Homo sapiens: one gene and its partners. The protein of the gene in region 3 purifies or fractionates together with the protein of the main gene of each other region. This does not show direct contact. Each region holds a gene or a part of one and is shown on either strand. Other genes may lie near its edges. The genes, in order: EMID1, FHIP2A, NPTXR and ACACB.

The links.
Region 1: the proteins of NPTXR (region 3) and EMID1 purify together in Homo sapiens (affinity purification with mass spectrometry; one large-scale study listed by BioGRID and IntAct). This does not show direct contact.
Region 2: the proteins of NPTXR (region 3) and FHIP2A purify together in Homo sapiens (affinity purification with mass spectrometry; one large-scale study listed by BioGRID and IntAct). This does not show direct contact.
Region 4: the proteins of NPTXR (region 3) and ACACB purify together in Homo sapiens (affinity purification with mass spectrometry; one large-scale study listed by BioGRID and IntAct). This does not show direct contact.

Annotation. Positions count from the first base shown.
Region 1 is NC_000022.11:29,250,384-29,254,395, forward strand, and holds part of EMID1 (EMI domain-containing protein 1 isoform 1 precursor), read left to right. Parts: intron 1-3,546; exon of another isoform or gene 3,547-3,707; intron 3,708-3,819; coding exon 3,820-3,904; intron 3,905-4,012.
Region 2 is NC_000010.11:114,857,757-114,865,055, forward strand, and holds the end of FHIP2A (FHF complex subunit HOOK interacting protein 2A), read left to right. Parts: intron 1-2,992; coding exon 2,993-3,133; intron 3,134-3,474; coding exon 3,475-3,578; intron 3,579-3,678; coding exon 3,679-3,784; 3' UTR 3,785-6,961; downstream 6,962-7,299. UniProt on the Homo sapiens protein: Required for proper functioning of the nervous system.
Region 3 is NC_000022.11:38,839,352-38,847,965, reverse strand, and holds the start of NPTXR (neuronal pentraxin receptor precursor), read left to right. Parts: upstream 1-3,937; 5' UTR 3,938-4,107; coding exon 4,108-4,731; intron 4,732-8,614. UniProt on the Homo sapiens protein: May be involved in mediating uptake of synaptic material during synapse remodeling or in mediating the synaptic clustering of AMPA glutamate receptors at a subset of excitatory synapses.
Region 4 is NC_000012.12:109,261,040-109,269,119, forward strand, and holds the end of ACACB (acetyl-CoA carboxylase 2), read left to right. Parts: intron 1-1,317; coding exon 1,318-1,430; intron 1,431-3,192; coding exon 3,193-3,347; intron 3,348-4,070; coding exon 4,071-4,241; intron 4,242-4,349; coding exon 4,350-4,486; intron 4,487-5,196; coding exon 5,197-5,323; 3' UTR 5,324-7,187; downstream 7,188-8,080. UniProt on the Homo sapiens protein: Mitochondrial enzyme that catalyzes the carboxylation of acetyl-CoA to malonyl-CoA and plays a central role in fatty acid metabolism.

The DNA of each region.
Region 1 (4,012 bases), 9.6 Mb from region 3:
TTGTGTGAATGTCCCACAATTTAAATTTGTCTGATTGTTTCTTCATGATGAGATGCAGGCTAAATAATCTTGGCAGGGGCACCTGTGGTGCCTTTTATTGTACCTCGTTAGGAAGCTCATGATGTCAGCTTGTCCCATTGTCCATGCCAGGAATGGCTTCATGGAATTTTATTTTATCTTTTTTTTTTCTTTTTTTAATTTGAGACAGAGTCTTGCTCTGTTGCCCAGGCTGGAGTGCAATGGCATGAACTCGGCTCACTGCAACCTCTGCCTCCCAGGTTCAAACGATTCTCCCACCTCAGCCTCCAGAGTGGCTGGGATTACAGGCATGCACCACCACACCCGGCTAATTTTTTTTTTTTTTTTTTTTTTTTTTTTTTTTTTTAGTAGTAGTAGAGACAGGGTTTTTCCATGTTGGCCAGGCTGGTCTCAAACTCCTGACCTCAGGTGATCCATCCGCTTAGGCCTCCCAAAGTGCTGGGATTACAGGTGTGAGCCACTGTGCTCAGCCTGGAATTTTTTAAGATCATCTTTTTTTATTTTTTATTTTTTGAGATAGGGTCTTGCTGTGTTGCCCAGGCTGGAGTGCTATGGCATGATCATGACTCACTGCAGCCTCGACCTCAGGGGCCCAAGCCACCCTCCCACCTCAGCCTCCCAAAGTACTGGAATTACAGGTACACACCACCACGCCTGGCTAATTTTTTAATTTTTTCTTTTTTTGAGACAGGGTCTCTGTCGCCCTGGCTGGAGTGCAGTGGTACGATCTCAGCCCAGTGCAGCCTCAGCCTCCTGGGCATCAATCCTCCCACCTCAGCCTCCCAAGTAGCCAGGACTACAGGCGCACACCACCATGCCTGGCTAATTTTTGTATTTTTAGTAGAGATGGGGTTTCGTCATGTGGGCTAGGCTGGTCTGGAACTCCTGAGCTCAAGCAGTCCACCCACCTCAGCCTCCCAGGGTGCTGGGATTACAGACGTGAGCCACTGCATCTGGCCATTTTTTTTTTTTTTTTAGAGATGGGGTCTCACTATGTTGCCCTGGCTAGGCTCAAGTGATCCTCCCACCTTGGCCACTTAAAGTGCTGGGATTACAGGTGTGAGCCACCATGCCAGCCCCCCCGGCGTTTTTTGAGACATGGTCTTGCTCTGTCACCCATCGTGGAGTGCAGTGGCACAATCATAGCTCACTGTAGCCTCAAACTCTTGTGCTCAAGTGAACCTCCCACCTCAGCCTCCACAGTAGCCAGAACTACAGGTGTGTGCCACCACACCCAAATAATTTTTTTTTCTTTTTTTTGAGATGGAGTCTCCCTCCGTCACCCAGGCTGGAGTACAGTGGTGTGATCTCAGCTCACTGCAACCTCTGCCTCCTGGGTTCAAGTGATTATCCTGCCTCAGCCTCCCAAGTAACTAGGACTATAGGTGCACACCACCAAGCTTGGCTAATTTTTGTATTTTTAGTGGAGATGGGGTTTCACCATGTTGGCCAGGCTGCTTTTGCACTCCTGACCTCAAGTGATCTGCCCACCTTGGCCTCCCAAAGTGTCATTAGGTGCTGGGATTACAGGACAGCTACCGTGCCCACTCTAATTTTTAAATTTTTTGTAGATATGGGGTCTTGCTATGTTGCCCAGGCTGGTCTCAAACTCCTAGCCTCAGGTGATGCTCCCACTTTGGCCTCCCAAAGCACTGAGATTAGAGGTGTAAGTCACTGTGCCTAGCGAAGGTCATTCATTTTTAGATCCTGCCCCTGTAATACTCGAAAGGGGATTACTTTGGCATGCAGCTCGTGGTGACCCTGGGACCCCCAGGCTGAAATGGCCATTCAGCGGCCTGAGGGTCACCCGATCCATGTGATGTGGACAGGACAGCTGGATCACAAGGGTCAGCCCCAGCGAGCAGGCTCACTCATGATGGACATATTGAGAGACCTCTTAGTTGTTTAGATGGTTTTGTGGGAAGCAGCAACCTTAAAGGGTTGGCTTGTAATTATACAATTATGCATATTGTCTATCCCTTCACTTATCTGTACTGAGTAAAGGGCACCAAGAGAGATTTCCAGATGTTGTCAGAGCTGGGATAGTTCTATTTGTCATCCTGGTGCACTGTTGGAATTGAGAGATCTACATTCTGGAAATAGCTTTGGTCTGGACTAGGAAAGAGGAAGGAGTGAGGGAGTGTGGAGCGTTGTCAAGACTATGGACCATATGCTGGGGAAGGAAAGGATGCAGATGGGGAGAAAGAGATGAGGTCTCTGGCATGAGCCCTGGGTAGCAGCTGGTACCACTTGGGGAGTGGGGAGCCCCAGAGCTGGTGGCCTTGGAGGAGGGGCTTTGTGAGCCCAGTGCCACATCCCTGGGGTCTGGGAGCCAGAGACAGGGAGAAGCAGACCCGTACTGCTAAGAGGAGAGGGCTGGGCTGAGGGTGACGCATCAGGATGTGCCAGATTGTGGACCTGGCATAGTCTAAGCCCTGGGAGAGGTGAGCACTGTTTTCCAGGCAGGGAGCCCAAAGCGTGAAGACCTGGGGAAGGGACAGAGTGCTGAGCCTCAGGTTTCTCAGAATTTTAAGCGCAAGTTCTCCAAAAGCAATGTAACTCAAACCTTGTCTAATTTTATTGACATACTGATGGTCCCCAGCTTACGATGGTTCAAATTACAATTTTTCAACTTTACAATTGTGCGAAAGCAATATAGGCTTTCAGTACATTCCTCAACTTACTTCCAAATAAACCCATCGTAAGTTGAAAATATTGTATGTCAAAAATGCACTTTTTTGGCCAGGGATGGTGGCTCACGCCTGTAATCCCAACACTTTGGAAGGCTGAGACAGGAGGATCACTTGAGGCCAGGAGATCGAGGCCAGCCTGGGCAACATAGCAAGACCCTTGTCTCTTAAAAAAAAGAAATGTGTTTGGCTGGGCGCGGTGGCTTACGCCTGTAATCCCAGCCCTTTGGGAGACCGAGGCGGGCAGATCACCTGAGGTCAGGAGTTCCAGACCAGCCTGACCAACATGGAGAAACCCTGTCTCTACTAAAAATACAAAGTTAGCTGGGTGTGGTGGTGCATGCCTGTAATCCCAGCTACTTGGGAGGCTGAGGCAGGAGAATCGCTTGAACCTGGGAGGTGGAGGTTGCGGTGAGCTGAGATCGCGCCATTGCACTCCAACCTGGGCAACAAGAGCAAAACTTCGTCTCAAAAAAAAATGTACTTTTGACTTGTGATATTTTCAACTTACACTGGGTTTATCTGGATGAAATCCCATTGAAAGTCAAGGAACATCTATATATTCATTTGGGCATAAGTGGAAATACTGGTAAGTAGCCTGAACTCACTGATCGGAGTAATTAGGGTGAGGCTAATGTGGTGATTTAAAGCAAAAAGAATGTGAAGTAAATAAGCATATAGGTGGCCAAGAGATATAGTCATGCAGGTGTTGGGAGAGCAACTGGTGCTGGGCGACAGACATTAGAGGACAGGAGGGCTCCCAGCAGCTTCTGGGACTGCCGTTCTGCCCCTGAAGATTGGCTCCCCCTGCCTTCAGCGCAGCAGGATTTGCGGCCTTGTCAGAGAGCAGCCAGCTGGGATCCAACGGGACCTTCTGGGAGGTCCTGCAGGGGTTGCTTCCTTCCGTCTGCCTTGTTGTCCCCCTCCTGTCCTCACCTGGTCTTGTTCTGGCTGTCCATGGACCCTGGGCTGTGGCAGGTAGTGTGGGGCTGCAGGTGCATGTCCCGGGTGGGGCATGGGCCACCGACGGGCTTTGCAGGGTCCCCTCCCCTGCCCCCTTCACGGCTGCATCTGTCTCTTTCCTCCACAGGGGGAGGGGTTGCACCAGCTACGCGAGGCTTTGAAGATTTTAGCTGAGAGGGTTTTAATCTTGGAAACAATGATTGGGCTCTATGGTGAGTAGAGACAGACAGACGGACAGACGGCCCAGCCCCTGCCTGCCAGCCTTCCCCAAGCCCTCCTGGGGTGGAACTGGCCTGAGCCCAGTCATGAGGCTGGAGAAG
Region 2 (7,299 bases), on a different chromosome or scaffold from region 3:
AATTGAGAACTTACAGTATCAAGTATTCATAACACTATTGTGTTATCACAATGCTAATTTGAAAAAATTCATAATACAAACATTTACTATTGTTTGTAACGGTGGTGATTTTAAAAAGATAGTAAAATACTAAAGCCCATAGCAGAATGTAAAGAACACTGGGAACATTGTAAGGAGGCCAAATCTTGTCCCTGCCCTGAGCATGATGAGTTTGAATTTGATCAAGTAACTTAGCTACTTGTCACATTTTCTAATTGTTAAAGTGAAGTTGATATTACTTTTTTAAGTCAAAGTTTATTATCTCAAAATTTGAGTTCAGTCCAAAAACATGGGCCAAGTCCATTTGTCATGTCAGAGAAATCTGGCTTGCTTTCCTTTCAGGTAAATACTGTATAAAGTATAAAATAAAGGGACCTCAAGTAATAGATATAAACACTTAACTACCAACAACTTCCAAAAAGGCTAGCTTGTTTTAAAGTTATTACCAATAGGAAGTAGAGACCATTTCAGAGTACAGTGAAACAAGTTTATCTTGTTGAAATTTATTTTCATTTTTACTACGTTGAGAAATAATCTGTGTCAGCCTTAAATTTCTTAAGCAACCTATGACCTACATTTATGTTAAAATAAACTACAAACCAAGGTAACACCACACAGAGAAAATACAAAGTCTAAATAGTAATGTATTTGTTTAAAGCCAAATTGTACTGATTTATTTATTTAAGCACCTGCAGATGGCGAAATTTAGTGACCTAAAAATCTTAACTACCTGCAGTGAAGAGTCATGTACAATTCTGGACTTAAGTTGTATTTTAAATTTTTTCTACTTTTTTTTTTTTTTTACTAAATGCATTCTTTTAAATTATTTTTTGTAAATGATTCCTTCATACCTAAAATACAATTTAATGTGAATTCATTGTTTATTATGAGTTGAGTCTCAGAGAAGGCTATTCTGTTGCAAATATTATCAAGGGAGGAGGAATGGAGAGAAGTTGGTTAATGAGTCCAAAAGTACAGTTAGAAGAAATAAGTTCTAGTATTCAGTAGTACAGTAGGGAAATTAGTTAACAAAAACGTATTGTATATTTCAAAGGAGCTAGAAGAGAACTGTGATGTTCCCAACACGAAGAAAAGATAAATGCTGGAGGTGATGGATGTCCCAGTTACCCTAATTTGGTCATTACACATTACACATTGTGAAATGTATCAAAATATCACATGGACCCCCCCCAAAATAGGTACAATTATGCTATATCAATAAAAAATACCCAAAGCCCCCAAGTATTACCAAGTAGGAGAATTTACTCTTAAACTATCCTTTACTGGGAATACATATTTCCTTTCAATTACCTTGCTTACAGCTAGGTTTTGAAAAAAAATAATAAATGACTTGGAGCAGTTTTTAATTCTTTAAAAAAATCCATGTTCATGAATCTAGTAGTAAGTTAGAAAGACTAAAATGGGCCTTACAGCATAGGACTTGAGAGTTTCTGTTTATGTAACAAAACATGTTCATCGTAGCGTCTGTAGCTGTGGTGATTTTCAAAAGATAGTAAAATGCCGAAGTCTGTAGCAGAACTGGCGTGTGCCCGAGCATTCTCCACTGAATGCCAGAGATTGACTTCCTCATTGCTATTCACTGTGATCAAGGCTTTGCAGGTTGTTCAGTGGCTGAGAGTGAAACATTCCGCTGTGCTGGCTGATGTTGCACTTGGTCCTGACTCCCTCTTCCCTCCACTGTGCTGCAGTGTCTGTCTCACTCTTGCCACCTGGGTTCTCTGCAGCCTCCTCACTGTAGTTAGTTTTGTTGCAACCAATCCGTTTCCTTTGGCTGCTTAGAAGAAGCAAACTGGAAGGGGTGAGAAGTTTCTATTGAAAGTTCTGAGCAAGTAGTAGCAACTCCTTGTGTAGTGTGCCTTTTGCTTTGTTGACATGACTCTGTAAAGCCCCTTTCTGTGAAGAATAAACAGACAATTAGAATTCAAGTAAAATCACGATATTACATGTAAAACAAGTGTGAGGAACTGTACACAGATATACAGTTGTTTGGAGAAAGTTAATACTCATGCAAGAAATGAGATGATCCCTCTCTGTAATCACCATTTTGAACCTTCTCATCCACTTTGAGGCATAGGGTCGTCATCAGTTCTATCCCCAAGTACTTTCATTTCATTCTGGTGACAAGGTTCTGTGATTCGACTTTATTTTACTGTATGTGTTTTTGGGAATTGGCAGTAGTTGAATAATCTGAGGTGAGGAATATCACTTCTAAAATTACTATATTTAAAAAGGTGTAATATCTTCCCATCTTGTTTTTTGGTCTTATGCTCAATGGGTCCTCTGTAATTAATATTATATATGACACACTGGTGCTTTTTTATGACCCCTTGAACAATTTCATTAATTGAATCAACCTGCATAAAATAAACATTCTGACTCTGTCACATATTTGTCTTTATATGTTTATATATTTTTTAAATCTTTAAAGTTTTAGGCCTGCAATATATGTAATTTGAGATGATGAGAGCTAGTTTAGTTGTAGATATTTTCATTGCAGAAGAGCATGCGCAGCAGGGAGGAAGATGGTGGATTCTGCTTTCTTTTTTTTTGTTTGAGACAGAGTTTCGCTCTTGTTGCCCAGGCTGGAGTGCAGTGGCGTGATCTCGGCCCACTGCAACCTCCACCTCCTGGGTTCAAGCAGTTCTCTTGCCTCAGCCTCCCAAGTAGCTGGGATTACAGGCATGTGCCACCACACCGGGCTAATTTTGTATTTTGAGTAGAGACGGGGTTTCTCCATGTTGGTCAGGCTGGTCTCGAACTCCCAACCTCAGGTGATCCGCCCGCCTCAGCCTCCCAAAGTACTGGGATTACAGGTGTGAGCCACTGGGCCTGGCCAGATTCTCCTTTCTTAAAAGAACAAATTGAAATAGTAAATTAAGCACACCGGTATACATTATTTTTAAATGTCTTTCTGTTTTTTATCTCTCCATAGCCATATGATGTAAACTTACAAGTAACCTCAGTGTTATCTAGACTTTCTCTCTTCCCTCATCCACACATCCACGAGTACCTTTTGGATCCTTACGTGAACCTCGCTCCTGGCTGTAGATCTCTCTTCTCTGTAATTGTCAGGGTGAGTTACTAGTTCTGTTATATTCCCTAGGATTGATAAATCTGTGCAATTAATATGTTAATATCATTGTATGCAGTTAGTGTCACATAATGAAAAATATATCTACTGCTTAAAAGTAATTATTATACATTCTGAACTACTATTTTTTCAATTATTTTAAATAATATGTAACTTTTATTTTAAAGAATTAGGTATGAGTCCTTGGTTAAAGATGATTATATGAGTAGTGAAAGTTTACGTTCTTTATTAAATAGTAGGGAAGGAAGATTTTTCTTTTTAGATCCTGAGGTTGTCTGTGTAGCTGATTTCAGGAACTGAAGTGCCTTGCCTCTGTGATGCAGGTTGTTGGAGACCTTATGCTTCGAATCCAGCGTATTCAAGACTTTACTCCCAAGCTTCTGTTAGTCAGAAAGCGGTTACTTGGTTTGGAACCTGAAGGCCCTATGTAAGTTAGTGTTTTACATTTTTTTAATCCAAAAATTTCAGTGAACTTAATGATCGGCTGCTATCTTGAATTGATTTATTGTCTGTTTTTTCCTTACCAGTATTGACCACATCACACTGCTAGAGGGTGTGATTGTGTTAGAAGAGTTCTGTAAGGAGCTGGCGGCAATCGCATTTGTAAAATATCATGCTTCCTCCACACCATAAATAACATCTTTCATGTAACTGGGGGAACAGAACTACTGTGTACATTTCACCAAAAAAGACTCAGTTCCACCCAGCCACAAGAGGATAAAAAGCCTTTTTAAACGCAGTATTGCTGTAAACTGGACAGAACCATTAAGAACCTATTGAGTGGACATTCTTGGTGAAATGTTGTATAATGTTGTTTTCATTGGCTTTATCATAATGGTTCTATATATACAATTGCACATTGTTGAATCCAGGATACAATCAAAGGAACTTCAGGAAATAAGCATTTCTAATGACTGTGAAAAGCTGCAATATTTCCAATGTCATGACTTTGATGATATTTCTGTTATATTAATGTCCTTTTAGGTAGCAAGGCATTTTGACATTCTCTGGGACTCAAATGCTTGTATTCTTTTGGATTAATAAGTAGCAAAAAAAAATCACTAATTTTATAACTTTTTAAGGTCAGAATTCTTATCAAACAAAATATGAAAACTGTAAATGAGAAAAAAATACAATTCAGAAACCATTGAATGAATTAATTATAGGCGATAAAAATGTGTAGAGCACCATTAACTTTCTTCAGCTTTTTTAAGAATAACAATTTAATATGATAAATTCTTGATTAATATAATATATCTATATTTTTAAAGAAATGTTCTTTTACTCTTTTGTGCACATAGCCATGTTAGTGATTTTCTTCATGTGTGGGTCCCAGTTTATTTAAACTGTGTCGTTTTCGCAGCAGTGTTCAATTTGCTCACCATTGGTAGTGTTTGCTAAAATTGTATTTTTTTAAGCTAAGTAACATGTACTGGGTTGAGAACCTTTTTCCCCCCTCTCCCTCTCAGAAAATTGCTTTATAAAATTGCTTTATAATTTGATTTTCTTACTGAAACGCATGGTGGTGTCTAGGTGGGGAACTGACTGATAACCCTTGGCAGCAATCAAAGTGCCAGTGGCTCCTCGATGTTTACATTTTTTTCTATTTTGTTCAGTCTTTTGTTTTAAATGATTCTAAAGAGATTAAAGAAAACAGAGTTTTAAATGTCCTATTTACATGTTAAAGGATTTGGGGAAATTGGGTATGTATGTGAATGGGTGTACATGTAGGAACCTGTAGTTCAGCAAAGCTGCGCTGGGCACAGCATGCTTGTACTTGATTGACAAAATCGTGTTTGCCAGTCCACTTTCTATTTTTCCTTTAAGTGATGCTGATCACTCAAATAATGCTTTTAAGCTATTGTTTGTTTTTATTTGACATGTTAAGCCGCAGCACTTTCTTCTTCATCTTTCCATTTACTGATATTTGGGGGAACAGGCTATCAAAGGTTCCGGCTTGAAGGGAACTGTCACTACCCCCTCTAGGAAGTTATTTTATGTAGCATGTTTGCATATACGCATTGTGTGGCATGTGCATAGAGGCTTGTTTTACACCTATCTGCTCATTTTGTTGTGTTAGCTTTTCTGGTTTATTTCATAGTTTGTTCTTGCTATTTATTAAGAACAGAATATCAAAAGATTATGAATAGCCTCAGCTCTAGAATGCTTACCACTGTTAAAACAACAAAAAGACTAAACCTCTAATTTCATGCAAATCTTTGTTAGCTTATTCTAAGAAATTTATTAAGTAAAACAAAGAAAAAACAGAAGTGGGAGATAGTTATTTTGTGCGTAATTTTCTTTAAATCATTTTGAATGATGTGAAGGCATTCAGTTTGCTGTATTTTTTTAATCACTTCATACAAGGAAAACTTCGACATTTACATTTCTAGATGTAGTAACAGTCTACTTTGATATATGAGTATTTAAACTAAGGCATTAAGAGATATTAGATATTTCTTAATGTTTTCATAGTGCTCAATAGGTGTAGTAGCAATGATATTACCTCTGAAACCAAATACTCTTTTATCCTTGATTCCACTATGGGACCTTATAACTAGTCCATGAAACCAAGCTCAGAAAAGCTTTAACTCTTATATTTGTGTATATGTATGCTGCTTCTGAAAATATAATTTTTCTAAGTTGTTGTAATGACTTTAATTTGTAATCAGCTAAGGCTTAAGATTTCATTTGTTTCTAAGTTTCTGTTTTTCATCCCTTCTTTTTTCTTTTATATTTAGTTCAGACCTAGAGCCAGTAGAAGCTCTCACAGTGAGTTCAATTTGTTAGTGAAACATTGTACTGCATCACCAGTTTTTCTTACCTTCTGTTGACAGCTGAATATTTCTGTTACTCAGTACTTGCAAAAACAGTAACTAAAATGCACTATGCTGAGTGGAAAGCACCGTCATAACAATTGATTGCCATAGCAAGTTCCAAAGTGAATTTCAGCCTTGCTTCACATTTGTATCAATAAATATGCACATTTTTTAAAACTTTCTAACAATATAGTCTTTGGATTTGTTTTTAGTTATGAGCCGCATTCTTTACTTGATAGAACTCAGATTTGTCTTAGCCTATTGCCATATAGTACTCACCTTATAACTATGTAACTTTCTCGTAATGTATCTGTTTGTGCAATATGGAAGCTGTGAGTGGATTCATAGCTTTTTGGTTTAATTGTACATTATTGTGTGTGTATATATGTATATATGTATATATATAAGGACCAAAATTCTTAGCTCGCTTACACTGTTGCTAGTGTAAACATTGTTACACTTAATTTTACAGGGCACAAATTATGGAATTACTTCATAAATTCATGGTAATGTTTTCATAAATTATTGCATTAACATACAATTGCCATTTAATTATGAAGTCCATCAGTATTGACAGAAGACGTTACAGTGAAGTGCTAAAACCACACTATATGGTAATTATATTTTGGGTTATGTAGTAAATCAAATATGCATGTCATTGTGACACTTTATGTGTTAAAACATGGTAGATAATCACATTTTCTGGGCCCTGTAAAATAGTGTTACTGTAATACTCTGTTTTGCCTCCTGCCTTGTTTACATTAAACAGGATATTTGGTAAATTTTTTTGTATTGAAAGTTGTGTAGGTTACTGACAGTGTTACCAGCGTCTGGAATTCTTGGTCCCTCCGTGGAGAAACTCTTCAGATGGTCATTGTGTACCTACTCTCTCTTCAAAGGAAGTTGTGATCAAGTTCAACTTTTTGTGCTAACAATGCATGCAGGACTAAGAGGGATGATCTAAAAAATAAATAATGTAATTTAAACAAAACGTCTTATGTTTTTGTAAAATTCTAATTGGGAACATTTTATCCAATGATAAATCTCAAACAATTTTTAACTTTTTGCACCCCCAGCACACAAAGGGATATGGCACCCTACAATCAGTGGGTCTCTATAGTATTCTAGGGAGAGAACAAAAAGCAATGTATCTATTTGTGGAGGAGAGATGTGTAGCTTGAAAAATTCCCCCAGGAAAACCTCCACTTCCCTTCTTAATAATCACTGCCCAAAAGGAAGGAATGTTTATGCACGTCTCAAAAACAATTTTTTTTTTTTTGAGGCAGAGTCTCGCTCTGTTCCCCAGGCTGGAATGCAATGGCATGATCT
Region 3 (8,614 bases):
GCTCTCCAACTTCATGATCCACCTCAGCTTCTGAGCTGAAGCCTTGCTCTTCTGGGGCAACTTCCAGCCAATGACTCAGGGTGAAAAGGGCACCATAGAGACAGGCCATTTGTGCCTGATGCAAAAACTCCCTCGTGGGCAGTCTCGGCCCCAGAGCTCCCTGTCGGGGTGGCCAACACTTTGTTAGATCAGCACCGAAGTCAGAGGTTCTCCCTGCCCGATTCTGTTTCTGGCCCTCTTATCTTTCACAGGACATCACCCCCAATAAAGCACTTGCACTTCCAACCCCATCTCAGTGTCCGCTTCCTGGAGGACCCAACTGACAAACACTACCTGTAAAACAGATTCATCCACGTCTCTCCACCACCACCAATTCCAAGTCACCATTACTTGGAGAAGCACCTGGAGGGAGGCATAGCCCTCCAATTGTAACCCCCCTACTTCCTCTTGTTTTGTTTGTTTGTTTTTGTTTTTGAGACAGGGTCTCTGTCGCCCAGACTGCAGTGCAGTGGCGTGATCTCGGCTCACCGCAACCTCCGCCTCCCAGGCTCAAGTGATTCTCTTGCCCAGCCTCCCGAATAGCTGGGATTACAGGCGCGCACCACTACCACCTGGCTAATTTTTGTATTTTTAGTAGAGACGGGGTTTCACCATGTTGGCCAGGCTGGCCTAGAACTCCTGACCTCAAACGATCCACCCGCCTTGGCCTCCCAAAGTGCTGGGATTACAGGCATGAGTCACCGCTCCCGGCCCTCTGTTATCTCTTTGTAACCCAGTCTCCAGACAACTGCCAGAGTGGTCTTTTAAAAACACAGTCCAGGTGATATCACTTCCGTGCTTCAGCCCTCCAGTTGGGCTTCGAGTCAGACCCACTCCCTTCCCGGAGCCTGTAAATCTCTACACGGCCCCCACCTTCCTGTCCAGCTTCCTCCCTCCCCTACATCTCACTCTGCCTCTAGCCCCACTCTGTTCCTTCTGTTCCTGAAATATATTACGCTCCTTTCTGCCCCAGGGCCTTTGCACTAGCGGTTCCCTCTGCCTAGAACACACCATCTTTCCCCAGACTTCTGCATGGCTGGTTTCCCAGGTCATTTAGGTCTGAGCTCCAATGCAGGCCTTTTCTGACCACCTTATAAATACTGCCCACCTCCCAATTCCCCCTTCCTACTTCCTGTAACTTTCTATAACATCACTTGAAGATTTTTCTTTGTCATTCTCATCATTATTGGAAATTAACTTGTTTACTTAGTTATTCATTTGTTTACTGCCTGCCTCCCCACTGGAATATAAACTGCGTGAGCTTGTCTTGTTCCCAGCTCTCTCCAATGCTTGGCACTATGCCTGGCACAATGTAGGTCTCAAAACATATTTTCTAAAATGAATTCCTATATTTGTTATATATGGCAGAATTCCCTTGGCCTAAGAATGGAATGAAAGTGAAGAAATTTAAAAAAAAAAAAACTAGGAGTCATGACAATTCAGAGGGAAAATATAGGAACTATTCCAGTTTTAGGGAAGTTCCCCTGAGAATACTTCTCTGCCCATCCCTTGAGGAATCCTGTGTTAGGATTAAGGGGGGTCTCTCCCAGGACCCAGGAGAGACGAGTTTTGGGACTTCTCTGTCCTCTCCTCCTTCCTCTGCCTCCAGCAGTGGCATTAGGAACTAGTTCAGCAAACATTCACCGAGAAGCTTCCCTGGGCAGGCTTCATGCTGAATGCTGGGGATAGAGATGGGCCAAGGAAGAAGGGAGAGGCTGGGCGCCATGGCTCACGCCTGTAATCCCAGCACTTTGGGAGGCCGAGGCAGGTGGATCACCTGAGGTCAGGAGTTCAAGACCAGCCTGGCCAACATATTGAAACTCCATCTCTACTAAAAATACAAAAATTAGCTGGGCGTGGTGGCGTGCACCTGTAGTCCCAGCTACTTGGGAGACTGAGGCAGGAGAATTGCTTGAACCCGCAAGGCAGAGGTTCCAGTGAGCCGAGATCACGCCACCGCACTGCAGCCTGGGTGACAGAGCAAGACTCTGTCTCAAAAATAAAATAAAATAAAAAATAAAGTCATTCTAGGAGATCAACAGACCAGTTTAAACACAATTTGACTCCAGCCTCTGGACCCATTTATCCAAACTGTCCCCAAAGTCTCAGGGGGCAGCTCAGGTAAAGGTGGCACCATTTGGTGCCCAAGTCACAGTGGCTCTGCTGCTCTTGGCAGCAGCCCTCTCTCTTGGCATCTCCTGTCCTTCCCTGGACTTCCTATGACAGTTTCTCCTGGGGATGCTATCTCCGTGTTTCTGTCTTCACGGCACACGTGTAGATGTACCAGGAGTCCCGATGTCTCATGCATCCCCAGGACTTTAGCAGGGCCTACCGCTGGCCTTTGCCTTCCAAGAGCCCAGCCCATCTCTCTGTCCATGAGATGCTTCCTCCAAGCCCAGCTGCCTGCCCTGGGTTTTGAGGTTACGACTTCAGTGAGCACCAGCACACATCCACGCACACACAGCACTCAGGTTCCTGGCATACAGCGCTTGTGTTTGCTTCTCTCCTCTTTCACAACTCAGGTATGGATGAAAATCCCTGGCTCCTAGAGATGGGTGAACAGGGTGGACATCATCCTAACATGTGTGGAGAGAGGGAGGTGGAGCACGTGTGCCTGGGAACACTGGACAAAATCCCCGTGGCTGGAGAGCGTCCCCCAGGGTTGTGGCTTCCTGGGAAACATTCCGGTCTCTCCCCACCACCAGCGCTATGTGAAGTACACTCGAAACCACAGTGGTAGCCGTGGTGGTCCAGAGATCCTGGTTTGCGCTTTCCCTTCAAGTCAAAAATGCAGGCTTGGAAGGGAGACAGAGCTGGGAATAACCACAGCCCTCCCAAGGCCCTTCCAGCCCTGGGAATCCGTATTGGTCAGGAAAGACCTCATGGAAAATTGGAGCTGGGGATAAAGTGTGGAGGATAGTAGGATTGTTTTTAAGTTTTTAATTGCAAAGTTAATTTTCAACAAAATATATATAGACATTTTTGACAGAAGAAAGTAAAACGCTCCTCTGCCACCCCCACAGCACAGCCCACTCCCATTCCTGCTGTTCCTTCTGGGCCTGGTCCACATGCCCACCAGGCACGTGGCACCGCTTGCCAACGAAGGCAGACTGCAGTGGGGGTGGGGGGTTTCTCTGGACCTGTGAGGCTCTAAGCCCCCAAGGATTCAGAGGAGAGAATTTCCATCATCCTCTGAGATCACAGGAAGATTCTGTAATGAGGGTGGCGGGGAGTGAACTCTGCTCCTTCAGAAGGTTGGAGGTGGGGGTGACGGGCAGGTGGCCACAGTATAAACAGAAGTTAGGTCAAAATCCGAGCCTCCCCCCAACCCCCAACACTGGCCTCTTCTCCACCTCTAACCGCTCCCACTCCAGCCCCATCCACAGTCTGGTCCGGTGAAACGTGCCTAAGCTCGCAGGCGGCTCCAACGCAGCCACCCGGTGACCTTGGACAGAGGCCTGACCTCAGGTGTCTCAGTTTCCTCATTTCTATTGTGAGCCTGTCCACGGCAAGGCTCAATTGCGACCGAGCTTGTGGCGCGCCCAGTGCACAGCCCCACCCGGAAGAAAGCTCCCTCCCGGGTGGATGTGAACATAACCGGCTTGGGGAGGGGGCCCGAGCACGGGAGGGCTGGGATGGGGGTCACCCAGGAGCCCCGCCGCGCGGCCCTCGGGTCGCCGGCCCCTGCGCTGTGACCGCGGCGAGATAAGGTCCCAGGCGCTGCCCTCGCTCCTCGCCGCATCCCCGGCGGCGCCCCCAGCCGGGCGCCCGGCACTGAACGGGTGCGGGGCTGGGCCGGGGCCAGGGCCGGCCCGGGGAAGCGAGTGGGGCGGGGCCGCCGCGCCCGCTCCCCCTCCCCGCCGCCTGCCGTCTTCTCCTCCTCCCGCCGCCCGGGCTCAGAGCGGCGGCAGCAGCGGCCGCGGCGACAGCTCCAGCTCCGGCTCCGGCTCCGGCTCCGGCTCCGGCTCCCGCGCCTGCCCCGCTCGGCCCAGCGCGCCCGGGCTCCGCGCCCCGACCCCGCCGCCGCGCCTGCCGGGGGCCTCGGGCGCCCCCGCCGCCCGCCTCACGCTGAAGTTCCTGGCCGTGCTGCTGGCCGCGGGCATGCTGGCGTTCCTCGGTGCCGTCATCTGCATCATCGCCAGCGTGCCCCTGGCGGCCAGCCCGGCGCGGGCGCTGCCCGGCGGCGCCGACAATGCTTCGGTCGCCTCGGGCGCCGCCGCGTCCCCGGGCCCGCAGCGGAGCCTGAGCGCGCTGCACGGCGCGGGCGGTTCAGCCGGGCCCCCCGCGCTGCCCGGGGCACCCGCGGCCAGCGCGCACCCGCTGCCGCCCGGGCCCCTGTTCAGCCGCTTCCTGTGCACGCCGCTGGCTGCTGCCTGCCCGTCGGGGGCCCAGCAGGGGGACGCGGCGGGCGCTGCGCCGGGCGAGCGCGAAGAGCTGCTGCTGCTGCAGAGCACGGCCGAGCAGCTGCGCCAGACGGCGCTGCAGCAGGAGGCGCGCATCCGCGCCGACCAGGACACCATCCGTGAGCTCACCGGCAAGCTGGGCCGCTGCGAGAGCGGCCTGCCGCGCGGCCTCCAGGGCGCCGGGCCCCGCCGCGACACCATGGCCGACGGGCCCTGGGACTCGCCTGCGCTCATTCTGGAGCTGGAGGACGCCGTGCGCGCCCTGCGGGACCGCATCGACCGCCTGGAGGTGAGCGCCGCGCGCCGTCGGGGGAGCCGCCCGGGTGGTGTGAGGGGCCGCCCGGCCGCGGTCGTCCGGCGGTCCCCGAGCCTCCGGTCTCCCGTCTGTGTTCCGGGGACGATCGCGCCTTCCTCGCTGGCGAGGCGGGGGGATTTCGATAGGGAACGCGGGCAGGCGTCTGGCACGGTGACTGAGGCACAGAGGGCGCGCCAGAAAGATTCGCTCCCCACCCTTTTCCGTCTCCAGGCACCTCTCTGAGCCTCAGTTTCTGTGTCTGTAAAATAGGTATAACAGTGTCCACTTGTAGTGGAAATTGAATCAAATGTAGGTGTGTGAAAATGCTTGGCACGTACTAGGACCTCATTAAATGTCCCTTTCATTTCCTTCTTCCGGACACCCCCAAATCAGCCCAGCTCCACGCTCACACTTTATGGCCAGGAGATGGATGCGCTGTCCAAAGGACTTGGGGTCCTCCCCTCATTACACAGAGCCGGGAACAGAGTGCCCTATAAGACAAACCTGGGTGCCCCTCACCACCTCCCTACCCTGAATCTCCCACTCTGGCTCAGACTATGACCCAAACCGCAGGAGCTCAGGTGCCAGGCGCCCAGCCTCACACACCTGGAAGCCCACAGCTCTTGGGTGGGGGCTGAATGGAGAACAGGGCCCCCCGAGCTCCTCCTCCTCCACTCACTTTTCCAGGCTTTCCTGACTCAGGCTTGGGGTCAGACACAAGGGGTCCAGCATGGGGGAACCCACTCTTGGCTCTCATGTGACCCTGGGCCAGTCATTTCCCCCCTGGAGTCCCATGGCCACCTTCCTCCCTGTAAGAATGAATTTGGGGCTCCCAGAAGTGCAAGGCAGACAGACTGGGCAGGACAAACATCCGGGACACATTCACTACCCCAGCCATGGCCTGACTTCCAGACCACAAGGAAGGGGGTTAAGCAACAAAATCAGATCTGTGGAAGGAAGAGAGAGAAAGAGGCCAAAGCCCGCGCTGCCCCCTCTGCTACCTCCACCCAGGTGGAGTGCAGCAGGCAAGTTGGAGGGAGGAGAGAGGCGGGGAGTAAATGCAGGGACCCCTTACTCCCGGGGCTTTTTAAGTTAAATCCTGGGCAAGCAGCACTGGTGATGCCCACTCACAAGGCTGAGGATGTCGTGGTCTGACAGCCCTCCAGGACGTCTGTACTGGTGTCAGCACCCTCCCCACAGGGTGTCAGAGTGCAGCCAGTCAGCCATTGCAGCCAACCCCTCACCTTACGGATGAGAAAACTCAGCTCAGAAACGTCCTAAGAGAGGTGGCAGAGGCAGGAGAAAAGCCGGGCCCATACCCACCTCTTCCCCGACTCCAGCTCTGGGGGATTTCTAGGATGAGAGAACCAAGAGCAGGAAAATAATCAGGAAAAAGGTGAAAGTATGCAATGAAGGGAAGTCTTAGTTTTCTCGCCTGTAAAATGGGGATAGTAATAGCACCTACCTCACTGGGATATTAGGAGGATTAAGTACTTTATATGAAAGGCCAAGAATAGTGCCTGGCACACAGGTATGTTCAGTCAATTTGAGTGATGGCTATTTTTATCATTAAGCTATAATATTACTCATTTTTAAAATACAGCCAAAACTCAAAATAGGAACAAACAGGTTTTAGGCAACAGGTTTTAGTCATGTAAAAAACAATTTTTGACTTTCATTGAATAAACTTCCTCGTGCCTGCCATAGCCCCTGCCCCCACGCCCAGATGGCACAGGTGGCTCCTCCCACGTCTGGGGCTGGCAGGCTTGGACCTGCCTTGGACCTGTGCCCCCAGCACCTGCAGCATTTGGCAGGGTGGCCTCCCTTCCGGTTAGCCCGCTGAGGTTGGGGGGATCCTGGCAGCTGGAATTTGGCAACAGGTCAGCCTTCCAGGCTGGGGGAGCCCTGGCTTCCCCATGTATACCTTTTCCTCTTTTCTGAGTGCAGCAGCCACAGACAGAGAAGGGCGGGGCCCTGCTTGGCCACCAGGTCTGCTTTCTGAGCGTGGCAACAGCCACAGCTAGTCTTTTGGGGGCCTCTGGGAGGGGCTGGGGCTGGAGCTGGAGCACAGCAGACACAGGGTGAGACCACTTGGCTCAGCGGAGTCCCATGCACCCGTTAGCCACTGTCCAATCTCTCCCCTCTCTTCTCATTCAGTATCCTCAAAGTGCCCAGATTTTCAGGGTCTCCTTTCCCTCCCAGGATACACTGAAGGTGCTCTTGCTAATGTCCCCAAGATGATAAATGAGGACTTCTCAGTCCTTATCTTGGGGGAACCCTCTCTGACACCTGACCCTGCTGATCATCCCCTCTTGCAGGTCTCCATGCCCTGGGCTTCCAGCCGCCTCTCACAGCAGCCCTCCTCCTCCCTCTGTCTGCTGCCTCTGTCTCCTTGCAGGGTCCTCCTCCTTTAAGGCATGTGCCCGTCTTGGCCCTCACTTTCCCTGGGTACACTCAGCCATGCCCTGAGGCTTCCCACACCCATTCCACGGAGGGGCCCCAAACCAAACTCAGTGTCCAGCCCAGGTTTCCTTCCCAAGCTCCAGACCCATCAACACATCGGCCTCCTGAGCATCTCTCTCTGGTTGTCCCATCAGCCCCCTAACCACACTGTGTTTCAGCTTGAACCAGGTACCTCCATGTGCCCTGAGAAACCATCCTTGGCCCCTCCCTCTCCCCCCAGTTCTGATTGGCCTCATCTCTGTACACGCTTGCAGCAGCCTCCTCTCTGGTCTCATGACTCCAGGCACACCCTTCCCTCCATCCTCCTCCAGGCAGCCCCAAGGGTCTTCCTTAAGCCCACCATGGGGCTCTCCTAACTCCTCGGCCTGCTCCTAGGCTACCACTTTGGATCTGGCCCCCGCTCCTGACCCCTCTCTCAGTTCATTCCTGCCTCTGCCTGGATCACCCCCAGCACATTCCTGCTCCACATCTTAGAGTCTGCTCCAAGTACACCTCCTCTCAGGAGCCATCCCTGTTCACACTCTGTCCCCTTCCTATCCCCACCTGGGCTTCCATAATCATCACACTTCCCTGCTGGTCCCCACCAGGCACATCCCTGCATCACCACCCCTCCTACAAAAGGGAAGGGAAGGTCTGATTGGCCTGTCCTCTCCCCAAAGCCTCAAGTGGGAGCCACATTTAAGGGCTTAGGGGAAAGTGTCTTCTTTTCCATTTTTATTTGTGTTGTTATTGTTGTTCATTGAAATAAATCAAAAGGTTTTGGGGAAAATGCTGCATTCAATTGCGTCATTTTCTCCCTTTTTGCAACCCTCTTTCAGTCCTTATCCATATGCAGCCATTGTTTGAGAGCTGCTGTGTAATTACCATTTTAATGATGCCATAATATCCTGGGATTCATCTGCAGCTCCCCATCCATCAGTCACTTGACTGGCTCCTGTTACTGGAGATGTAGGTTGTTTCTAATTATTTTTCTTCCAGATGTTCATTGCAGGATCCATTTCATACAGAGAGCTGTTTGTTTGTTTGTTTTTAAGTCTGTTGATTTTTTTAGGCTGAATTCCCAGGAGTGGTATTACTGGGTACTGGGTCAGAGGATATTGACTTTTTTTTTTTTTCTTTTTGAGACAAAGTCTAGCTCTGTCGCCCAGGCTGGAGTGCAGTGGCGCAATCTTGGCTCATTGCAACCTCCGCCTTCTAGGTTCAAGCGATTCTCCTGCCTCAGCCTCCTGAGTAGCTGGGACTACAGGCATGTGCCACCACGCCCAGCTAATTCTTGTTTTTTAAATAGAGATGGGGTTTTACCTTGTTGGTCAGGCTGGTCTCAAACTCCTGACCTCAGGTGATCCGCCCACCTCAGCCTCCCAAAGTGCTGGGATTACAGGCGTGAGCCACTGTGCCTGGCCAATATTGACTT
Region 4 (8,080 bases), on a different chromosome or scaffold from region 3:
GAATACTTGCATGAGAGGATACCGGTTCTTCGCGGGAGAGGTAACCTCCTTGGCACTTTCCTTAGGAGGAATTTATTCCAGAGATTCTTACAGAAAGGATGATGACAATAATGTTCACAGCACAGTGACTGATGACTTTGAAGTGAAAACTACATGCTACACAGGATGTCAAGGCCTCAAGAGTCATTCTACTCCAAATATAGGCACGGCATTCCTGTGTTCACTCCCTCATTCATTTGCTAATTCAATGAATATCCATTGATTACCTCACTGTATGCCAGCCATTCTGGTAGACATTATGATATGGTGGCAAATGGGCCAAGCTTGTCCTGCATTCAGGGCACTTAGACCCTTGTTAGGGACTGCTGAGGTCAGTCCTCCAGGAAGACTCAGGATACTGAGCAGCACTTGAATGGAGTCATTGCTAACTTTTCATGCTGGCCACCAGGAAGCTCAGAGCTACTGATAGCATTCTTCAGGGCTTCTAAGCTGTCAAAAGCAAAAGGGGGCAGGGGGAGAATAAGGGGTAAATAAAAATGTTGGAAATGAGGCCAGGCGTGGTGGCTCACGCCTGTAATCCCAGCATTTTGGGAGGCTAAGGGGGGCAGATCACTTGAGGCCAGGAGTTCAAGACCAGCCTGGCCAACACAGTGAAACCCCGTCTCTACTAAAAATACAAAAATTAGCTGGGCATGGTGGTACACGCCTGTAATCCAAGCTGCTCGGGGGGCTGAGGCAGGAGAATCACTTGAACCCGGGAGGCAGAGATTGTAGTGAACCGAGATAGTGCCACTGCACTCCAGCCTGGGTGACAGAGTGAGACCCTGTCTAAAAAAAAAACAAAAAAAAAAAAAAAGAAAGAAAAGAAAATGTATGTTGGAAATGGGAGGACAGCTCACACAAGACTACACTGGGCTCTCAAGGTGCTTTTGTGAGATTTAAAGCGATCAGAAACAGTGCCCCTCCTCTAGGAGGGCAGAAATTAGCAAAGTTAGAGAGGACTGTGGCTGGAGAGCAGGAGGGTTATGCTGCCATGGAAAAAGTCGTACACTCTTAGACCTGAAAGGGGCCCTCCAGAGTTCAGAAAGCATTATTTTAAACAGTTGGCTCAGTCTTTCCATCTGTGGGTAAAGATACAGAGGCCCAGAGAGGGAAAGTGACTTGTCTAAGGGCACACAGCATGTGTGGGGGTAAAAGAGCTGAGGACTGACACCCAGATCTTCTGGCTCTCTTCCCTCCAGCTCCCCCCACATCCATTAGCCCTTGCTTGCTGGGCAATGCCTCATATACCCCCATCCCTGCCTCTTCTCTTTTAAGGGGTGGTGTTCTGGAACCAGAGGGGACAGTGGAGATTAAGTTCCGAAAGAAAGATCTGATAAAGTCCATGAGAAGGATCGATCCAGCTTACAAGAAGCTCATGGAACAGCTAGGTAAGGGGGTCCCAAAGGCTTCACCTCTCAGAGGTCAAGAGAGGCCCAGCTGGCCCACTGCTGGGGGTTTCTAGGATGTTAAAAATAAAATGAAAAAATACCAAAATACAGCTATAATAACTGTGAGATTTTTAAAGATATTCACATTTGTCTGTTTGTTTTGTTTTGTTTTTTTGAGGTCTGGCTCTATTGCCTAGGCTGGAGTGCAGGGTGCAATCTCAGCTCACTGCAACCTCTGCCTCCCAGGCATAAGCCATCCTCCCATCTCAGCCTGAGTAGCTGGGACTACAAGTACGCAACACCATGCCTAGCTAATTTTTGTATTTTTGTAGATGTGGGGTTTCGCCATGTTGCCCAGGCTGTTCTCAAACTCCTGGGCTCAAGCAATCCACCTACCTCAGCCTCCCAAAATGCTGGGGTTACAGGCATGAGCTACCATGATTGGAGGACATTCACATTTCTAAATCAACCTTTTTAACATTATATATATATATATATATATATATATATATATTGCCATCGTGAATTTATTTCTCAGCATACACAAAAGATAGCAATTGAAGTATTTGGGGCTGATGGGGATTATCAGAATTTTGGTGGCAAAATGTTCCTTTAGAATTCCCAATCAGAGATAAGATATTTTACTAATTTTGTTTGAATGACAGCTTTGTTTTACTTGTCATCTTTAGATGTAATTATCTTTATTTATTTATTTGTTTATTTTTGAGACAGAGTCTTGCTCTGTTGCCCAGGCTGGGGTGCAGTGGCGCAATCTCAGCTCACTGCAACCTCTGCCTCCCAGGTTCAAGCGATTCTCATGCCTCAGCCTCTCAAGTAGCAGGAATTACAGGTGTGTGCCACCACACCTGGCTAATTTTTGTGTTTTTAGTAGAGACAGGGTTTCACCATGTTGGCCAGGCTGGTCTTGAACTCCTGGCCTCAAGTGATTTGCCTGCGTCAGCCTCCCAAAGTGCTGGGATTACAGGCGTGAGCCACTAAGTCTGGCCACAAGATGATATTTAAATATCCATTTTAAGTGTCAGTGTCTTTATAACTGTGCTATTCACAAGATTTTTTACAGTGTGTGCGTGTAATTTCTTTGGCTGGTATCAGGGTAATGCTGATCTCATAGAATGAGTTGAAGTGTTCGCTCCTATTTTCTGAGTTTTTGCAGAATTGGCATTATTTCTTTATGTTTTTGATAGAGGTTTTTACCTATAAATTCAACTTCTTTGTTATATATAGGACTATTTGTGTTATCTGTTTCCTCCTAGGTGAGCTTTGGTGGTTTGTGTGTTTCAAGGAATTTGTCTATTTCATCTTAAGTTGTCAATTTGGCATAGAGTTGCTTATAATATTCCCTTATCATATTTTACAATGTGTACTAAAAATCATTGATATAGTATCCTACAAGCACGATGGGTCTGATGGAAGGGGAAAATGTAGAGTTGCATGTTGAATGCTGTCTTGCAATTGTGAGTGCATTTCTGAGACTGTACTAGCTATTTGATCTGAGACAAAGGGGGCCATCAAGATGGGCCTGGGGTGGGGGCCAGGCCAGTGGACTCTGGGGGACCTAGGGGGCTGAGGGCAGCCTGTGTAGCAGCAGGGGTAATATCAGAGTTAAAGCTCAGACCTCTCACAAGGCAAGGCCTGTCCTGCAAATCCTGATTTGTGCCTTCTTCAAAAAAAAAAAAAAATCTCCACCCCATCACATATGACCAGCTTCCATGGCTTGACTGGCCTTTCTGCTCACCTGCAGGGGAACCTGATCTCTCCGACAAGGACCGAAAGGACCTGGAGGGCCGGCTAAAGGCTCGCGAGGACCTGCTGCTCCCCATCTACCACCAGGTGGCGGTGCAGTTCGCCGACTTCCATGACACACCCGGCCGGATGCTGGAGAAGGGCGTCATATCTGTGAGAGCCACAGCTGCCGTGTAGGGTGCAAAGAGCCCACCCTGTTTTCCAAAACATGGAGGACATTTGGGCTCGGGGGCGGGGAGGGCGGTGGTGGTTGGGATGGGTCAAATGCTGCAGGAGGTGGGAGTCACCTGGGAACTTTAAAATAATCCCGATCCCCAGGTGGCACTGCAGACCAGTGAAATCCAAACACCTGGATGGAAGCCAGGCGGTCGTATTTTTTAAAGATCCCCAAGAGATTCTAATAAGCAGCAAAGTTCAGGGACCACTAGTCTGATGGCTCGGTCAGTTTGGACCTGGACCAGGGGTAGAAACCGTTGTTCCTGTCCAGCATTCACCCACCCCTCACCATTGCAAGGACTCCCACAGTCACCTCCTACCCATGTCCAGTGCTCATTGGTTCTCTTGCTGCATTGTTCTCCCTCCCAGCTGACTCATGCCTCACACGAGCCTGTGTTTGTGTCGGTTGAGGTAGAAGTGGGTGCCAGGTTTTTATGGGGGACATTTTTTCAACTATGGCCAGTCTGGAGTCCTGGTGACGTCCTGCCTCTGAGCAGGTGCCTTCTCCTCCCTGAGCCTCAGCTTACTTGCCTGGGATGATCTGGGAATGATCTCAGAGCCTGGGCCCAGCCCCGGGCAGCCACTGTCATGGGTGTGGTCAGAGCCAGTGTCCCGTCTCCTCCTTCCCTTTCCGGGGATTCAAGCCTGGCTCGTCCACAGGACATCCTGGAGTGGAAGACCGCACGCACCTTCCTGTATTGGCGTCTGCGCCGCCTCCTCCTGGAGGACCAGGTCAAGCAGGAGATCCTGCAGGCCAGCGGGGAGCTGAGTCACGTGCATATCCAGTCCATGCTGCGTCGCTGGTTCGTGGAGACGGAGGGGGCTGTCAAGGTGGGCCTGGGGTGAGAACGAGGCCGGTGAGCACAGGGGGTGCTGGGGGCTGAGACAGCTGGCCCACAGCTGGGTCCCTCTCTGAGGCATCCTCTGCCCCCTCCCCAGGCCTACTTGTGGGACAACAACCAGGTGGTTGTGCAGTGGCTGGAACAGCACTGGCAGGCAGGGGATGGCCCGCGCTCCACCATCCGTGAGAACATCACGTACCTGAAGCACGACTCTGTCCTCAAGACCATCCGAGGGTGAGTGGCCACCGCACCTGCTTCCCAGCCTCCTGGCAAGGACCCGAGCCTGGATTGACCCCTAGCTACCCGACTCCTATGCAGCCACTTGAACCCGCCACCCTGTGCAGTCTGGGGTTGTCCCCGCCCCCTCCCCGCTCCCCAGCAAAGAGACCACACTCCCTAATGTCGGGTCTCCCAGCACAGTGGCTGGGGTGGGACAGAGAGCCTAGAGGTACTCTGAAGGCCGTGTGAGATGCTTCCAACTCATGAACCTTGCTGGAATATGGACTTGTCCAAAGTCACAGCTGGAGCAGGGTTGGTCACAGAACCCACATTTGGAACCGCTAGCCTTCAGGCTGCTGTCTTCCACGCCAGTGTTGACCTTTCCAGAGGGTCCCCTCCCCCAATTGCCATGGGGTCACCCCGTGAAGGAGGGAGTCGAGCACAGGGGACCCCATTTTGGGGATGAAGCTGAGACTCAAGGCAGTGTCTTGTCTCAGGTCATGTCACAAAGCAGTGACCAGTAGGGACGGTGGTGCCTCAAGGCATTCTGAACTTCAGGTCACAGCCCCTCCTGCTGCACAGGACCATCACCCCCATGGGGACCACAGCAGGGACTCGGGAGCTCTGGGTTCTGGGGTGTGGCCCCACACAAGGACTCTGCCACCCTTGGGGCCACTGAAAAAGTGGCTGGAGTGATCCCAGCCCTCCTCTCACCTCCCCCACAGCCTGGTTGAAGAAAACCCCGAGGTGGCCGTGGACTGTGTGATATACCTGAGCCAGCACATCAGCCCAGCTGAGCGGGCGCAGGTCGTTCACCTGCTGTCTACCATGGACAGCCCGGCCTCCACCTGACCGTGGCCCGCCCAGCCACTCCCGGGACCACGGCAAAAGGAACCACCCAGACCCACCACCCGTACACCCTCAGCAGACCCTGAAGACTTGCTTTTAAACAAAGAAAATCCTGGGCACTTCTGCAGGGCTGCTGGTTCCGAGCTGACACCCGTCTTAACAAAAGGCCCAGGAGTGCCTCTTCCAAACAAAAACAGCCTCCTCTCCATAGCTGGGAAGTTTATTTTGTTTTGTCTCTGAAGACAGCAGTTTTATTGCATCACTAAATCTAATCAAGCTAAAACATCCCTGTTTCCTTTTGCAAAACAGTGCCTGGCATGTGGGATCCAGGCGTTCTTTAGGATCCTTGGATACCACATCGTGAAATCTTTTATTTTTTTACTCTGAGACCAGCACCAGATGTAAGTAAGCATCTCATATATTTCAGCCAAATAAATGGGCCAAGGGAAAAAAATATATATATATAGACAGGACTAGAGAAAACCTATTTTTGTAATGATGTTTCTTTGGATACTGTCTAGTCACCCAGAAAAATGTATGGATGAATTTTTTTTTTTTTTTTTGAGACAAAGTCTCACTGTGTCATGCAGGCTGGAGTGCAGTGGCATGATCTCACTGCAACCTCCATCTCCTGTCTCAGCCTCCTAGATAACTGGGATTACAGGTGCCCACCACCATGCCCGGCTAATTTTTGTATTTTTGGTAGAGACAGAGTTTCACCAGGTTGGTCAGGCTGGTCTCAAACTCTTGACTTCAGGTAATCCACCCACCTTGGCCTCCCAAAGTGCTGGGATTACAGGCATGAGCCACCATCTTCAGCCAGATGATTTTTTTATTGAGAGAGTGAAATGCTATTTTGTTCCCCAAATGGCGCTAGTGAATCACTAGGAGGGTCCCACTGATAGGCCATGTTTAGCACTGGTTGCCAGGGATTCTCTTTTTGAGAGAGGGAAAGCAAAATGAATGGAAGTACCCAGCTGGAGGTTTCAGGGCTTCTGGAGGATGCTCTCGCATAGCTCGAGGTCCTCTGCCCACCTCTTCTCTCCAAGGAAAATGAGGACTGCCCCTTCCCCCTGCAGGATTGGCCCCCAGCCTGCGCATGCACCCTCCTCTTGCCCAAGTGGGGAGCACAGAGGCGGAGAGGAATCCCTTACCACACCCACGGCCCAGCTTGCTCACGAGTGTCACCTCTGTGACGGTCACCACTGCTCCCTTGGAGGGCCACTTGAGTTACTGTTGCTTCCTCGCCTGCTGGCTTGATGAGCACCGATGGTGGGATCTGACCCCGAGGGGCAGAGCTGTCGGTGACTGAGGACTGGACTGTGGTGACCATGCCGATTTGCTCAGGGAGAACGTTGCAATGCACCCAGCAGCTCCTGGCTCTGCAGGCGGCACAGCCTGGGGCCCTGTGATCCTCTGGTTTCTTCCATTGGGGCGGAGTCGGGGATGGAGGGAGCTGGCCACAACCCACTGCTCTGATGGGTGGTTTGTCCAAGGATGCTGAATGTAATGCCTGGTCAATGTGGAAGCCCATGAGGTTGCCCAGGGAAGCCTCCAAAAGCTGGGATGCTTGAGGGTATCCAAGTTGAAAAAGACAAAATCTGACCATCAGCCAGTGACAGTCCTGGCAAATGAAGGTGGGGCGGGGCAGTGAGGGGTGGGAGAAGGTGAATGATTCATTATTCCACCCCGAGGTTTGCTGGGGTGAGGGGAAGAATCGATGCTGCTTTGGGAACTGAAGGTTTTTCTGTTGGGAAGGCCCTCTTGGTTTTGGAGAGAAAGACAAGTTATGAGTAGCTGCTACCCTGGAACGGTGGGCAGAGAGCCTACTAGGAAATGTGCAGAATAAACTATTTTTTGAAGGAAACACTTTGGCCTTGACTTTATTATCTGGATTGGAGAAGGCAGGTTGCCTCCAGGAGCAAAGGTAGGCGTTCACCTTTGCACCCTCCATTCCTGACACCACAGCTGAGACCTTGAGTGAGTTCCCATCACAGGGGCAGACGGGGATGCAGTGAAGGAAGCTGAAGGCTAGACTGAAATGGACAAAGTCATCCCTTTTTGAAAGCACTGGGGAAAAATGTTTTAGAAAATTATATGCAAGCCTAGTCTATACCACAGGCAAAAAGGGAGCTTCTCTGGAAGAAGGGGTTGGGGGTTGGCCCAGGCACTTCACGTGCGAGTTCCATTCCTTTCCACCACCTTGATCCACCCCTGTTGTGCAGATGAGGAAGCTGAGGCACAGAGAGGTGAAGGCATTTGTCCATGGTTATGCAGAGACGGAATCAAGTCTGCTTGGCTCCAGAACCCAGCCCTTTCCTTTTATGACCTAGGTCCTTGGTGGGCAGGCTTAAGCCACACTTAGGAGTTGGTTTTACATGGACCCAAACTGCAGAAGAACCCCCTACCCGCCCCCCACCGTGGCTTCTCAGCACACAGTGACTATTCAATTTTGTCTCCAAAACACGTAACAACAACTGTTACCTTGATTCTGCCTGACACCTTTTCCAGGCAATTCCCCCTCACCAGGGATGGGCCAATCAGAGTTCTCCATTCCCCCTGACAGTGACTGACGCAGGTATGGGCGTGTATCCCCAGTAGAGCCGATCAGAATTCTTTAGGGATGGCTGACAGTGCTGATGTGGAGAGAACCTACCAATGCAGGGGGAAGCCAAGCCCAGAGATAGAGGGGGAGATCCAGTCCTGTTGGTGGTACTTGGATGCCTGGATCAAGCCATGCCTGAAGTCAGTAGCCCAGTC